Linked DNA regions of Homo sapiens: region 2 is reported to be linked to region 1. The links are microRNA targets in miRTarBase. Many come from high-throughput screens and were not tested one by one. Region 1 holds a microRNA gene; the other region holds the end of a gene's coding sequence.
What was found. The annotated mature microRNA hsa-miR-7-5p reads UGGAAGACUAGUGAUUUUGUUGUU and lies in region 1 at 3,415-3,438, opposite strand. An mRNA with a match to its seed (bases 2 to 7 or 8) in the 3' UTR can be bound and repressed. Matches are read on the target gene's strand: a 7mer-m8 pairs with bases 2 to 8, a 7mer-A1 pairs with bases 2 to 7 and ends in A, and an 8mer does both.

Region 1 (8,192 bases):
TTTATACCCAAAGTGAATATTGGATGCCAGCACTGAGCTAGGCGTGTGTGTGGGGAGGTCAGGGGTACAAAGATGAAACTGCCAGGAAAAACTGAGGGCTCCCAGGGGTCTTTGGGGGAAAATAAAAGGTTAGTGTGGCTTTAAAAAGAATCAATAAAGGCTGGCCGGGCGCGGTGGCTCACGTCTGTAATCCCAGCACTTTGGGAAGCCGAGGTGGGTGGATCACTTGAGGTCAGGAGTTCAAGACCAACTGTGCCAGCATGGTGAGACCCCCATCTCTACTAAAAATACAAAAATTAGCTAAGTGTGGTGGCACGTGCCTGTAATCCCAGCTGCTCAGGAGGCTGAGCCAAGAGAATCGCTTGAAACCAGGAGGCAGAGGTTGCAGTGAACCGAGATCATGCTACTGCACTCCAGCCTGGGCAAGAGTGAGACTCTGAAAAAATTAGACCGGTGCAGTGACTCATGCCTGTAATCCCAGCACTTTGGGAGGTTGAGGCGGGTGGATCACTTGAGGTCAGCCTGGCCAACATGGTGAAACTCCGTCTCTACCAAAAATATAAAAATTAGCTGGGTGTGGTGGCACACGCCTGTGGTCCTGTGCAAGTGATCCACCCACCTTGGCCTCCCAAAGTGCTGGGACTGCAGGCATGAGCCACCACGCCCAACCGGATATTTGAACGTTATTCTGCAGTCAGTGGGGCTCTTGGAAGGGTGACAGGCAGGAGTGGAACTTGGTCAGATGTGTGTTCTGGAAAGTCCCCTCGCTGCATGTAGAGAATGAACAGGCTGTATGTGTGTGTATGCTCAGAGGGGAGACAGTGAGGAGATCCGGACATGCAGGGAGGCGGAGGTCATGGAGGCAGAGGGCTGGAGGGAGGTCATGGAGGCAGAGGGCTGGAGGAGAGAGGATGGATTTGAGCACAGTGACTCATCTTGGGGATCATGGGGAGTGGATGAGGAGGGGAGGATCTTGGGCATGTAGAGGGACTGTCATATTCATGGGCATGTCAGGGGAGGAAGCTAGGGGCTGGGCAGATTGAGTGTTCACTTTGAAATGATTAATTTGGGGTGACTGGGAGACACCCATAGCAGAATGTCCTCCTCCATTGAGGACCCCAGAAGGCAATATCTGTGTGCCTTTTCCTTTCTGAAAGACCTTGCATTCCCAGGGGGCAATTCTAAATAGACCAGGAAACCTCCCACAATTAGACCTAACCCAGACATTGAACCTCCCTCTGCTCAGCCCATTCATAAAGTGCCTCTGGCATTTAGGTGTCTTCTAATCTCATTTTCTCTGCTTGTTAATGGACCCACTGAGGCAGTACTCCTGGGAGAGAGAGAAAGATTTCATTTGTCTGGGGCTGAGGAGGGAGACGAGGGTTGCCAGAGCTAATGAGGAATCAGTGCCTTGTAATTGCTAATTAAATGAGCCTGGCTCTCTCTCTTGGGGCTGTGAGTTGGCTGGCCGGCCCTTAAGTGTCCACAAATTCAATTATGCTTCCCCAATAAACACCTCCAGCAACCATTGCCCTCCAGTATCTCTCTGGGGGAGACCTAGAAGAAGGATCTTCCTGTGTGTGCTGAGGCCATTCATTCATTTATTGATTGATGTATTGGTTTATTCTTTGATGCCTTTATTGATTCAACACATGCTTATTATATGCCTGCTGTGTGCCGGGCCCCGGACCAGGCGCTGGGGACACAGCAGTGAAAATACTAACATTGTTTCTGCCCTCACGGAGCTCACAGTGTAACAGGGAGACAAATAGACCTGTCAGTAGATAACATGAAAATAATTGGACTATGTGCTGCAGACACAATATCCCAGGTCTATGAGAATGTCAATACAGACTTCACGTGGGAAATGGTGAGGCAATAAGGATCGTTTCCCTTGATGAAATGGAGCTTGCAGAAGAAGGCAGGGTCAGTTGTGGGGAGCTCTGGTTGGAGGTGGAGGGAGTGCATTCCAAGCTGCAGGAACAGCAGAGGCAAAAGCCCTGAGGCTGGAGAACAGGTAACCATGTGCAGTTTTTCACTTGATTAGGGTGTTGCAGAGAATTGGGAGTGAGTCTTATATATTTATTTATTTATTTATTATTTTTTACTGAGATGAGGTCTTGCTATGTTGCCCAGGCTGGTCTCGAACTCCTGAGCTCAAGCTATCCTCCCACCTTGGCCTCCCAAAGTGCTGGGATTACAAGTGTGAGCCACCATGTCTGGCAAAGGTGGTGAGCCTTTATGATGTCATAAGTCACCACTGGGCACAAGTTCACACTTGTCCTATGATTGGCCCATGACACTGATGGGTAGCAGACAGGAAAGGAATCTTTTCTGAAACTTTTTTTTTGAAACAGGGTGTTGTTCTGTTGCCCAGTCTGGAGTGCAGTGGTGCAGTCATGGCTCACTGCAGCCTTGATCTCCCAGGCTCAAGTGTTCCTCCCACCTCCTAAGTAGTTGGGACTACAGGCATGTGTCAACTCACGGGGTCTCACTATATTGCCCAGGCTGGTCTCAAACTCCTGTACTCAAGCAATCCTCCCATCTCATCCTCCCAAAATGTTAGGATTACAGGTATGAGCTCCCACACCCAGCCCACTTCTGGAACTTTTATTGAAAAGTATCCTTAGGCTGGGTTCGGTGGCTCACACCTGTAATCTTGGCACTTTGAGAGGCTGAGGCAGGAGACCATGTCTTTACAAAAAAGAAAAAAAAAATGTTTTTTGAGACAGAATCTCTCTCTGTTGCCCAGGCTGGAGTGCAGTGGTGCAATCTTGGGTCATGCAGCCTCTGCCTCCTGGGTTCAAGGGATTCCCATGCCTCAGCCTCCCGAGTAGCTGGGACTACAGGTGTGTGCCACAACGCCCAGCTAATTTTTGTATTTTTAGGAGAAATGGAGTTTCACCATGTTGTCCAGGCTGGTCTTGAACTCCTGGCCTCAAGTGGTCCACCTGCCTTGGCCTCCCAAAGTGCTGGGATGACAGGCGTGAGCCACCCGGCCAAAAAAATAATAATTTTTTTTTTAATAGAAAAGTACCCTGAGAACTCTGGTCTAGGGAGGGCTTTAAATGTCATTCCCTCATTGGGTCTCCCAGGAAAGCGCCATAAGGTGGTTAGAGGTCTTGGGTTTAGAGTCAGGTATGTTCTATCTCCAGGCTTGTGGGGGCGTACGAGTGATGTGACAAACCCCATACATGGTGCATGGCTGTATGAGCACAGGATGTATGTCCTTGTTTGCTTCCCTCCTTTGCCTGTGCCTGTATCGCCTGGAGTGAGCCAGCCCCCCCACTCCGAGTGGAAGCGATTCTTCCCCGACCTCCCCGGTTCTCCCCCACTGGCCAGCCCATTGAAGGCGAAGGTCGAAGGGAGTCTGCGCTATGAGGCCGGCTGTGACTTGTTGTCGTAGTACATCAGAACAACAAAATCACTAGTCTTCCACACAGCACTAGACCACAGCCACTCTAATCTTCTTCACCACCCTCTGCCCCATGTCTGAGACCCCTGCCCAGCTCCTCCTTCTCACCTGAGCCAAGCTATGACACCTGAGTTTCCTGCCTCTGTGCTGCCTCCCTGTTTTCCATTCCCGGTTCTCCTGGAGAGAAGCAGGGTCTGATCTCCAAGGGCCCACCTCCCACCCAGGCACGTCAGAGACATGGGATTTGGAGTTGGACTGGTGGGGTTGACTTACAGCTTCACTTGTGGGCTGAGAGTCCCTGCGTGGGTTATTTTTCTGCCTTTCTCAGGGCCTTGGGTTCCCCAAATGTCACATGGGCACAGTAACACCCATGTCCTAGGGTTGAAGATGGCATGATATGATGTATGTAAAATGCTTGGCACAAGGTTTCTCACCGAAGTCTGGAAGAGACACCATAATGTCATCTTAGCAGGCAGCTGTTACCCCAGTGAGGTATCTTACCTGTTGAAAATTCCGGACTTGGGCCAGGCGCAGTGACTCACGCCTGTAATCCTAGCACTTTGGGAGGCTGAGGTGGACGGATGAAGAGGTCAAGAGTTTGAGACCAGCCTGGCCAACATGGTGAAACCCCGTCTCTACTAAGAATACAAAAATTAGCCGGGAGTGGTGGCATGTGCCTGTAATCCCAGATACTCGGGAGGCTGAGGCAGGAGAATCCCTTGAACCCAGGAGGCAGAGGTTGCAGTGAGCCGAGATCGTGCCACTGCACTCCAGCCTGGGCGACAGAGCAAGACTCCGTCTCGAAAAAAAAAGAAAATTGCAGACTTCTGTGTGTGCTTATCTGGAAAATACTTTGTTTAAAAATCCATTACATGAGGTGCAGGTCTCCAGAAATGCCAGGCACCTCAGACCACCCTCTCTCGTCCTCCCCCTGCAAAATCAGGGTCAAAGGGCTCTCCCGTTACCTGGAGGAGCTGTCCAGGGTTCTGGAGACGAAACGGAGCCCGCTGGGAACTGTCCTGAGCCCCGGTGCTGAAACAGATCGCGGTTCTCTTCTCGGACCTCCCGAGAGGCGCTGTCCGGATATTTGGTGCTGAAATAAATAGCATTCTCCTCCTTCGGTCGGTGGAGAGCTGTCCCTCGTGCTGAAGAAAACTTGATTTTCCTCTCTCTTTCCCCGTTCCCCCACCCCTCTTCGTTCTCGGTTCCTCCGATTCTTGGGAAACCCCACCCCCACTCAATTTATTTCCCCTCCTAGCTTCTTCCTGGGGAGCTTCAGAATGGCAATGGGGTGGCGGGGGGGAGACACAGAGGGGTCGCAACTAGCACTGATACCTGCTCCTCACCCTGTACCATGTCCCCAGAACTTACCTCCCAAGCAGTCAGCCCTGCTGGTCTCTGCTTTCCAGACCGTCAAACTTCGCCGTCTCTGTCCCTTTCTGGGAAAATGTCCATGCGCCAACCTGCAAACCAGCCTCATTCCCGGCATCCCACGTCCCTCAGACCACCCCTCCTCCCACGCAGCTGCGGGCCTCCCCCTCTGTGTGCCTCACCTGCTTCCAGTCTTGTTGGCAGATGCAGGTGTCCCGTGGCTGCCGAGGCGGGGACCTGCGCTTTTATAGGCTTCAGGGAAGGCGGAGCGCCAGGAATCCTGGGAGGGGCTTCCCCAACTGGCCAATGGGATTCCGCCTCAGAATGAAGCTCCAAAGATTACCTCATAGGTTGTGGCCCACGCTTCAGAATAAAAGTCTGGCATCTGCCCAAAAACTGGGCTAGGGGATTTTTTCGGATGGGGAAGGAGCATTCATTGTGGACCATGGAGTCTCCCCACTCTCTCCAATCCCCTCCTGGGTTCCTGAGCTCCAAGTTCGTTCAGGTGTCCTGGCTGGTACCTGTTTCTTCCCATTCCCAATTTTTGCTATTGCTCCTGGTTCAGGAAAGAAAAAGCTGGTAAACTGTTTTGGGAAAAAATAAGGGATGTGGAGAATATTAAAGTCCAGTTCCACCTAGGGCAACTGACGTCTGTGAAAATGGAGGGCTCAGAAGACTCTGGGGCAGAGGTGGGACTTAAGCCTGAAGCTTTTGATTCCTTAACTCAAAACCCAATTTATAAAATTCAGCTTATTGTAGTGCTATACTGGGCAGGCTCTGAACCAAAAAACGAAGAAACTGGGGTTCAAGTTCAGATTTTTCTTCTCCTTCCTTTGGGACATTGGGCACAGTTGTGCCTCAGTTTTTGCAACTGTGAAGTAGTGATAATAGTAGAGTATTTGCTGAGGAACTAATGATATGGTGTGGATTGCATGTTAGAAATAATCAGGGCAGGGGCTAATGTGAGTTGGGTGAGGCACCAGCCTCAGGTGCAAAACTTAAAGGGGCACCAAAAAACTCAATAATCAAGGTAAATAATATTTCAGGCCAGGTGCAATGGCTCATGCTTGTAATCTGAGCACTTTGGGAGGCCAAGGTGGGAGGATCACTTGAGGCCAGGATTTCAAGATGAGCCTGGGCAACATAGTGAGACCCCGTTTCTGAGAGAGAAAGAGGGAGAGAGGGAGAGAGAAAGAGAGAAACAGAGAGAGAGAGAGAGAGAGAGAGAGAGAATGGCACCTGTGGTCTCAGCTACTTGGGAGGCTGAGGTGAGAGGATCACTTGAGGCCAGGAGGTCGAAGCTGCAGTGAGTTATGATTGCACCACTGCACTCCAGCCTAGGTGACAGAGCAAGACCCTGTCTCAAAAAAAAATCGATGCAATGTTTTAAGAAATCAAAATGTATGCCAAAATCCACAATGAACAAAATATCAAAAATGTAAATAAAGGCAGAACCAGCCTTTCTGACTTTTCCTTTTGCCTGAGGTCCCAATATGGCTTGGCATGGCACTAGCAATCATGTCTGTTTACGGTAAGTTTTCTAATAATGCAGCTGTTATTCTTTCCTGATCTATTCCACCCATTTATTTGCTCAACAAACTTGTTGTACTAGGCACTGGAGATACATACATGAATTCAGCAACCAACCTTGCCTTTAGGGAGGGTAAAGACATGAAAACTCTGCTCACATGTTGGTATGGGCATTGGGTTGAAGGAACAGTCAGTGTAAGGGCCCTGGTGGGGGTGGGGGAAAGAACAGGCCCTGGGGGGTGAGCAAGCATAGAAGGGACAGTTAGGATATAAATCAGGGACAGCTGTACAGGACCTGATCATTCAGGCCAGGACAAAAGTGAAGTTCCTCAGGTTGCACAGGAAGACCTGCCACCCTTTCTCTCTCCCCTTCCCTAAGCTTTTACTCTGTGCCAGGGTCAGTGCCAGACATTCTACCTGCTGAGTGATCTGAAGGCCTCAGGGCAGCCCCATGAGATAGATCCCAGCCAGGTGCGTTGACTCACCCCTGTAATTCCAGCACTTTGGGAGGCCGAGGCGGGTGGATGACCTGAGGTCAGGAGTTCGAGACCAGCTTGGCCAATATGGTGACACCTCGTCTCTACTAAAAATACAAAAATTAGCCGAGTGCGGTGGCGGGTGCCTGTAGTCCCAGCTACTACAGAGGCTGAGGCAGGAGAATCGCTTGAACCCGGGAGGCAGGGGTTGCAGTAAGCCAAGATCATGCCACTGCACTCCAGCCTGGGTGACAGAGCGAGACCTTGTATAAAAAAAATAAAAATAATAAAAAAATTGAAAAAGGGCCGGACATGGTGGCTCACGCCTGTAATCCCAGCACTTTGGAAAGCAGAGGTGGGTGGATCACCTGAGGTCGGGAGTTTGAGAACAGCGTGACCAACATGGAGAAACCCTGACTCTACTAAAAATACAAAATTAGCCGGCATGGTGGCACGTGCCTCTAATCCCAGCTACTTGGGAGGCTGAGGCAAGATAATCGCTTGAACCCAGGAGGTGGGGGTTGCAGTGAGCCAAGATTGTGCCACTGCACTCCAGCCTAGGCAATAAGAGCAAAACTCTGTTAAAAAAAAAGAAGAAGAAGAACAAAGAAAGGAAGGAAGGAGAAAGAGAAAGAGAGAAAAAAGAAAGAAAAAGAAAGAAAGAAGAAAGAAAGAAGAAAGAAAGAAAGAAAGAAAGAAAGAAAGAAAGAAAGAAAGAAAGAAAGAAAGAAAAAGAAAGAAGGAAAGAAAGAAAGAAAAAGAAAGAAAGTTCTTTTTGGCTGGATGCCTGTAATCCCAGCACTCTGGGAGGCCAAGGCAAGTGGATCACCTGAGGTCAGGAGTTTGAGACCAGACTGGACAATATGTTGAAACCCCATCTCTACTAAAAATACAAAAATTAGCTGGGCATGGTGGTGCATGCCTGTAATCCCAACTACTCAGGAGGCTGAGGCAGGAGAATCGCTTGAACCCAGGAGTTTGAAGTTGCAATGAGCCAAGATTGCACCATTGTACTCCAGCCTGGGCAACAAGAGCAAAACTCCATCTCAAAATAGACAGAGAGAGAGAGAGAGAGAGAGAGAGAGAGAGAGAGAGAGAGAGAGAGAGAGAAAGGAAAGCAGGCCTTTTGACTGGGCACAGTGGCTCATGCCTGTAATCCCAGCACTTTGGGAGGCCAAAGCGGGCAAATCACGAGGTCAGGAGGTCGAGACCAGCCTGGTCAACATGGTGAAACCTCGTCTCTACTAAAAATACAAAAAATTAGCTGGGCATAGTGGCGGGTGCCTGTAATCCCAGCTACTTGGGAGGCTCGGGCAGGAGAATCACTTGAACCCGGGAGAAGGAGGTTGCAGTGAGCCAAGATCGTGCCACTGCACTCCAGCCTGGGCAACAGAGCAAGA
Region 2 (8,192 bases), not on the chromosome of region 1:
AAGAAAAAAATACCTGCTCCAAATGCAAGATGATATTTGTAAGGGAGGATAATTTATCAACTTTTTCTAATAGAATGCTCCTTGAATCAATATCTGCCATATGAAATTATATGACAAGTAAACCTCAAATTTATTACCTATCACCTTATAATGATAAATAAGCAATCTAAAGTATGCTGCATAGTACCTTGAGGAAAGTGACTGCTATACTTAAAATTAAGGCTGATTCCTAAAAGGTATGGAAGAAAAGCCAGAATGTTATTGTTTGTAAACCACTAAAGACTTAATATGAACAGTTTACATAACTATCTGGTTAATTTGGGCAAATGAGCACTTGTGTTTGGTTTCTAACTTTGCTGGAAGGTGTTGGTCTAATAAAGAAAACTGCTTTAAGTAGGAGCACTTTTAGCATACACAAAAATAAAAATCCTTTGTAAATTTCACTTGCAATGTTGTGCAACTGTATATCTTTGCCTTATGCATTTGAAACTGATTATGTATTTTATGCAAAATGGTATATTTTTCCCAAAGCTAAGAATATGGACAATGATGATATGATAGCTAAGCTAGTTTTATCTTTCTAGCTTTTATCAACTCTTGACTTGTTGAATTCCTACAATGTGCAAGGCAGTATGCAATGTGTTGAACATATATGAGGTCTACACATAAAACAAAGGGAAACTGAAGTCTTTGGAAGCAAAATAGTTGTCAATTTGAAAACCAACGGTAATCATTTTCCTCAACAGTATTTCTAAAAGTTGAGAATGATGTCAACTAAAACAAAATACAATCATCCCCACCTCTACCAAAGATGGAACTATAACACAGAAATCATTTCCACAGAAGACACGAGAATGTTCATACTAGAGCCATAGGGACCAAAGCAGCAAGATAAACAATGAGGCAGTCACAGAATATCTACTAGCTACTGTACTGGTAATAGTTTATAAAAAATACGATCTATACTAAAATTTAAGAGCTAATAATATATTTAGCATATTTTTGCCTTTTCTTTTTGCCACTGAATATAAAATTTGTCCTGAATTTACTAAATCTTCTACACCCTGAGGAATAACAACAGACTAATAAAAGTAACGTCAGGGTTAGCTTTCTGGACAATAGAATCATCCAGAAAGCACAAATTATATATAGCTAATATTCTTGGAAGCACAAGGTTTCATCAGCAGACTAAACTACTGCCCTGTATTGTTCTTAGCAAAGAGTTTGGTTTTACAGTGTTAACATGGCCTGGTGAGAGTAGAGAAGTCAAAGTTGGGAGCCTGAGGTTTCCTCTCCCACCTGAGATCCACAACTGATTCATTGGTTTTCTGTCTTCACCATGAACATGGCATATTGCTGCCCTTTAGGAATATATTATTCAACAGTTCTCTGTAAAAGCACTTTGGAATCTTTAGCTATATATTTCTATGAAATTATATTTGCTATCTTGAAATATGGAATTCCTATCCCTCCCTTCTCCATATACAAACAGATAAAATGATACATTTAAAATTTCATCTACGCATTTACTTCTTTTCCTCCAATACCTGAGAGAAAGCAAGTACTGTTTTCCCCCTTTCAACTATATTACATTATGCCTGAATTTGAGAGGGAAGGAAGGTCCTAAAGTAAGGCAAAGGATTCATTTAGGACAACGTTCTGGCCTTTATTTTAGGGCAGAGTGCCACTGTTTCCCTTTGGACGCAGGTTTCAGGCTAATCTATTTGTGCACACACCATCCTCTAAATGGGATGCCTCCAACCCCCAAAACGTTAGTTGCCAGAAAGAAAGAACTAAATCTTGGTAGGGTGCTTAAAATGATAACTAATGGAATAATCAAAGCATCCTGCCTGCTTATATCAGTCTCTCACTGAAGGATAAAATACCCTACGGGGCCATGCCTAGCGATGGGAATAAATAAAACAATGGGCCACAATCAACTGTTTGATAAAACTTCCATCCTGTTTTCTTAAACATTAAATATAATCTTGCTCCCAAAAAAGTAAGAAAGGCACTCGAATTAACACAGTCTCTACAGTTATTTTTTAAAAGACACTATGTGACAATAAGGAATTCTTAGGGTTGATTTTTCTTCATTAACTTCTCAGTGCCTCCACACATCTCTCCATTAAATGGGAGCTTATTACAGAGCATACCTAGGTATGGGGAGGCAGCAACACATAAAGTGCTAGGGTTTGCACAGTTCTATTTGAGAAATTTATTCAAGACAAAAGGTTCAGTTGTTATCAGGTTCAAATTTTCTAGCATACTTTAAATATCTGTAAGTTTTAAAATATAATTTTCCAGTAGCAAAATAATAGTTAGCTTAAAACAGCTTTTTAGAAAAAAAAAATCATGTTACTTCCCTTTACAACTAAATCTTTAGCATCTTCTATAACTCAGGGGAACTAAGGTAGGGATTATTAGATTGTTGTACAGTAGGTGGTATCTGCCATCTTGTGCTATGTAAGAGAAAATTATTAAACTGACAATTTGTTTGCTTCAATACTAAAAATTCCTTTTACACACACATACATGTGTGTGTGGCCCAACAAGAATAAACTGGCATGACCTGAACATACCTAAGTGGCATACGATCTACTATGTATTTGCTTTCCTGCAAACTACTGCATAAAAATCCAAAAACTTTTGTTTCCGTATCTTGTATCACATAAGCCCTTATTTAAAAATTTAAGTACTTTTAGAGATAACCTGTATATATTTAACCCTACTAATAATTAAGCCTTTAAGTGAGAACTGTACCATAGGAATAAGAAATATGACTGAAAGTCTGGGCCCAGAGTTTCTTAAGAGGTAATAAAATGCTAAAATCTACAGAAGACAAAGGGGACATTAATACATATCAAATCCCTAAGCTTAAAAAATGACTCATACAGATTTAAGAAATATCTGAAAGAGTCACAGTTCAAGTTGCGGGGAAAAAAGGAGAAGCATAAAATGATATGTGCACAGGTACAGATCAGTAAGTCACTGAAATCAAAGAATTTCTTCAGATGATTAAAAGCAGTTTCGGCTCTGTATGCAGGATCTGTCCTCTAGTATCACAAATGAACAGAAAGTGGTGTTCTTAATGCAAGTGGGTTCTTTAGCTCTACAAATTTTTAATATATATTATAATACAGTTAATTGACAATTACAGAGCTGCATTTCTTGGCTGGGATTTAACAAGTTTAAACAAGGTAATGAAATGAAGAAAAAAAAAGTCTAAATCAACTTACTCTATATGCAATAGCTCTTCCCAAGTATTACGAAACTAGAAAGCATCATTCATTCCCAATCCATTGCACTAATCCATCAATTTCTCAATCATCACTCATTCTTAACACTCACAAACAATCTTTCTCTTCCTGTTAGTCATTCATTAATTTAATAAATATTTAATGAGTCCTCACAATGTGCAGGGCACAAGTAGAATCTGGAAAACACCGTACTGCCAAAATAGGTACACTAAAGTACACTAAGGTACACTAAAGGCGGGGTGAAGGTGGTGTTGGAGACAGTTACAGAGCTTAATGCTTTTTGCTTGTCAGTAGTATTCTTAATCCACAGTAGGATGACCCACTGTTCTTCCAGTGAAAGTTTAATGAAATATGTGTCAATAAGCCATCTTTTCCTTTTAACAATTAGATTGTTATAGAAAAATAAGTGAAGACTAAAAGTCCCAGAAAACAGACACATCCTTTCTACTACATAAGCTCAGTCAAAGACATTATCATGCTACAGCTAGCGGGTTTAAATATTAACCACTTAGGAAAAAAACCAACCATATAGGGCAATATTAGGATTTTCTGTGAATGAACAATTAAAAAATGCAAACTCTAGAAATAAAGCAGCACACAAAAGTTACATACTAACAGTATCCTTTGGGTATTTGCATTTTTGCTCTCTACTTTAAACTTTTAGGAAGGAAACAAGACATATTAAAGGACTGTGCGGCTTCAGAAAAGAGTGGGTTAAGAGCCTTAGAAGATATGAAAATAGTTTACACACCAAAGATAGGCAAGATAATCAGTGGAAGGTACACAAAGGCATGGAGCACTATAAAACTTAGCTAGTGTTTTATAGGGTATTGTCTACACTCATTTCCTGACATTTTTTCACATCAAAGCATAAGCCCTATTACTCAAAATGTGAAAAATGATTTTTAGGAAAAAAGGTAATACTGAGTTAGGCCAGAATCTGGCAACATATTTTAGTGGAATGGGCTGAACCACCCATGTCTTCTCTGTGTAGTTTGCCCCCAAACACTCACAGGAGCTAAAAATCATAAACTTATGATTTTATCCATAGAGGTCTAGGTGGACCTTGAGGTATTTAATTCAAAATATGCTTTGTACACAAAGGGCCATGGAATTATGTTCATAATGGTATTTTTTCATCTAAATAATATAAAAGCTATAAAAAGGTAATTTTTTACTTGAGAGAAGAACAAATTCTGTCTACTGGGGCCAGGCTAGACAACTTTTCTGGCGTTCTTAAGTCTCAACTCACTTCAACAGTCTGCCACTCAACAAAACCATGATGCCAAAGAAAAGGACATATTTCTTCTTCTTTAAGGCAGTCTACCTAACTCAAGTCCAGGCTTTCCGTAACAGTGAGAGAGAGGTTTACTTTCCCTACATCTTTATCCCCACTTTACAAATTACCTAGCAAGTAAAAAGAACAACAGGCAAAGCATTGTTGTCACACTTATTTCTGCCACTATTACTCACATTCTGCACAGATAGGACAACTGACAGCTTCCATCATTAGGGAAACTTTTAGAAGGGCCACTCTTCATATTTCTGGTATATGAATGTATTTTAGATGAGGTATGAAATTCATTGCAAATAGGGGGTAGAAATCTTGAAGACACACCCCTGAAGTAAGAAAGGAAAGGTATACAAAAATGACACACAAAAGTGACAAAAAATACGTAATGGATTGGCAAAACAAAGTATATGAAAAGAAGAAACAGACCACTTACAAAAGGGCAAATATAAGAAAGCAGACATTACATGGCCCATTCCCCACCCTCATCCCACCTACCTGAAAAACTCAGCCCTTGTTATTGGAAACATAAGATACGGCTATAATGTGGATACTTTGGTACCTCATCCCTGATTAAGTTCAGTATCAAAGTGTTTTGTTTTGCACATACTATTCCTTCCCTTGGCATTTGCCAGTAAACTTTAACAGTCACTTCATGATAATTTTATAGTTTCCATAGTGTATCCTCAATAATTTAGATTTTTAAAAAGGAATATTTTTATGGATCTATTTCTTTATATATTTCTCCCATTTGTCATAAGTGAATTTGAAATTAAAAAGTAGTAATAGCTAAAAATGGCATTCCAGGTTTTCAGGAAAAAAAAATCAATTTTATAAGGACTGATGTGTTTTGGCATATACCAAATTTGAGGTAAAAATAATCTATCAAAACTAGCAATAAAAATAATTTTCCTTTACTGCAATTACATAAACTCTTAAGTTAGTTTTTTCTTAAATAACCATTTAAAAAATGGATTACATTGGAAGCATTTTTTTCATATAAATTCCAATACTTCTGACTTTGGTAATTGGGTAGAACATGCTAGAGAAAGAGAACTAGTTTACATTTTTAAACATTCGCCCATCTAGCCATTTGATTCTCAAAACAATTACATCAAGTTATTCGGCATTCATACCAACATTCTTCAGTTGAACTGCAACATAAATGTTTATTTTCAATTTGTTTTAGAGACAGGGTCTCAACTCTATTGCCCAGGCTGAGTACAGTGGTGCAATCATGGCTCACTACAGCCACAAACACCTGGGGCTCAAGCAATCCTTCTGCCTCAGCTTCCTGCATAGCTAGGAACACAGTTGCATAGCACCATGCCTAGCTATTTTGTTTTACTTTTTGTAGAAATCGGGTCTTGCTATGTGGCCCAGGTTGGTCTCAAAGTCCTGGGCTCAGGCAATCCTCCTGCCTAGGCCTTAAATTTTTAATTTTTAAAAGAATTTGCCTATGCAGCAATTGGACTGAGGGGGGTAGAGGTGTGTGTGTGTGAACCAATCAGGAAAACCAAATGAGAAGCCCCACATATAGAAATACAAAGGGTGAGAAGTTAAACAGAAAATTTAAGACTCGCTGTTCAGCAGGAAGGAACTATACGATTATTTTATCCCCACAGGAATGCCAGTTATTAACAAAATAAATAAAATGAAAGATTTACTATGGACTTTCAACCTAAAGACGAAGAACATATGGTTAGCCAATAATAGTAAACAGTTCATGCAACTATGTAAATAATAAAAGAAAGCAATATTGCACTAAAAGGGGAACCTTGTAGGACTAATTCACCTCTTTCATTGACTCAAAGTAACCAGCCATTTCCTGTATGCACTGGCAAACCTGGCTTGCTCCACGTTCCGACAGGTGGACAATACTTGATCAATGAACCTGTGCTCCATTTCTAGGCCTAGGGAGTCTGGAACTGGCGTCCGCTTCAGGCGTTTGGTTTCCTGGGAATAGCCTTGCTTGCTAGAGTCATTCAGTCCATCTACTTCCATTGCTTGAGACAGCTGGGAGCCTGCTGGGATAAGGTGCAAGTCACTCAAAGTCCCCCCAGGGCTGTCTGCAGGTGACAACTGGGTCATGCTGTGAGGAAACCTACCATTTAAGTGATGCTGAAGGTAGAAAATATGCCGCCTGCGATAGAGAGGGGAAGGAAGAGAATAAAGAAAATCACATTACAAAGTCAAGCTTTTCCAGAAAAAAAAGTTTGCAATTTCAAAACATACAGTATTCAATTCACTGCCCATTTCATAACCAAGTTATACAGAGGAAGGAGGAAAAACAGTAGAGATGATGTTCCAGGATATTTGGACAAAGAAAGCCTTATAACTCCAGCTTACAGGTTTGTTTGTGAGAAAGAATACAGTCCTAAGGTTTTTCATAAGCATTTACTGAGATGACAATGACTTGGAGATGGTACTCTATGGTAACCGTAATATAAAACTAGAAATATGTGACAGTCTTATTTCTGCTATAAGTTATAAATATAAAACAAAACCAAGACAAATCTCATTGATATCCTAGAAGACAAGTGATTCAGAAATAAGGGGAATGAACAGTTCCTTTAGAGGCTTAATCTGTGGCCTCTATCAAGTACTTTAATAAAAATAACATATCTGTTGTAGTGGGTCTTATTCCCTAAAAGTCAACTGAACTTTACCCTAAATCCATCACCAACTACAGTTTTAAACATCCACATGCATTGGGGATGTGCTGGGCTCTGAGCAAAACATGTAAAAGATACAGTTCCTGTTCTCCCTCCGAGGAGAGCAATTCTCCTGCCCTTACAACCACCTACAATTGTTTGTTAAAAATGAAGATTCCCGCGTCTAATCTCCAAAAATTTCAATTCAGTGGGGGCACATCCATGTACAATGAACTGTATAACTTCTAGGTTGTTACATCTCATCATTCACATTAGCAACTCTAAGCCCTTAAGAGAATTCTATTCATTTTCCTTGCATATTCTGAAGCAGACAGGGAGCACATAATGTTCCACTTTTACAGGGGGTAAAACTTAAAGGCTAGATAAGCTGCCTAATGACAATGAGTCAGCAGTAGAAAACCGGCCTATGTAATACAGGCATACCTAGTTTATATTATGCTTTGCTCTAATGTGCTTTGCAGATACTGTATTTTTTATAAACTGAAGGTTTGGCAATCTTGTGTCAAGCAAGTCTATCAGCACAATTTTTCCAACAAAATGTGGTCACTTTTTGTCTGTGTCACATTTTGGTAACATTACTAATATTTCAAACTTTTTCAAGATTATTATATCTGTTATGTGATCTGTGATCAGCGATCTTTGATGTTACTACTATAACTATTTTGGGGTGTCACAAACACACCCATATAAGATGATAAACTGAACCAATAAATGTTGTGTGTGTTCTGATTGCTCCACCAACCAGCTCTTCCCCCATCTCTCTCCCTCACCCCAGGCCTCCCTGTTCCCTGAGATACAACAATATTGAAATTAGGCCAAGCAATAATCCTACAATGACCTCTAAGTGTTCAAGTGAAAGGAAGAGTCACAGGTCTCTCACTTTAAATCAAAAGCTAGAAATGATTAAGCTAAGTGAGGAAGGCATGTCCAAAGGTGAGACAGGCTGAAAGCTAGGCCTCTTGTGCC

Region 2: the mRNA of PTAR1 is a reported target of hsa-miR-7-5p. Seed matches in the 3' UTR shown: 7mer-A1 at 240-246.

What each region holds. Positions count from the first base shown.
Region 1 is chr19:4,765,946-4,774,137 of GRCh38, reverse strand. It overlaps MIR7-3 (microRNA 7-3), which reads right to left and starts at 3,468; the gene lies at 3,359-3,468. It overlaps MIR7-3HG (MIR7-3 host gene), which reads right to left and starts at 5,033. Exons shown (of 3, transcript NR_027148.1): 1 at 4,787-5,033; 2 at 4,381-4,508; 3 at 1,582-1,974. RefSeq lists a silencer at 4,307-4,601.
Region 2 is chr9:69,711,991-69,720,182 of GRCh38, forward strand. PTAR1 (protein prenyltransferase alpha subunit repeat containing 1) reads right to left here. Exons shown (of 8, transcript NM_001099666.2): 7 at 6,660-6,694; 8 at 1-6,578. The coding sequence ends at 6,352. Among named protein-coding and RNA genes, the nearest start is that of APBA1, 44 kb to the left of the region's middle.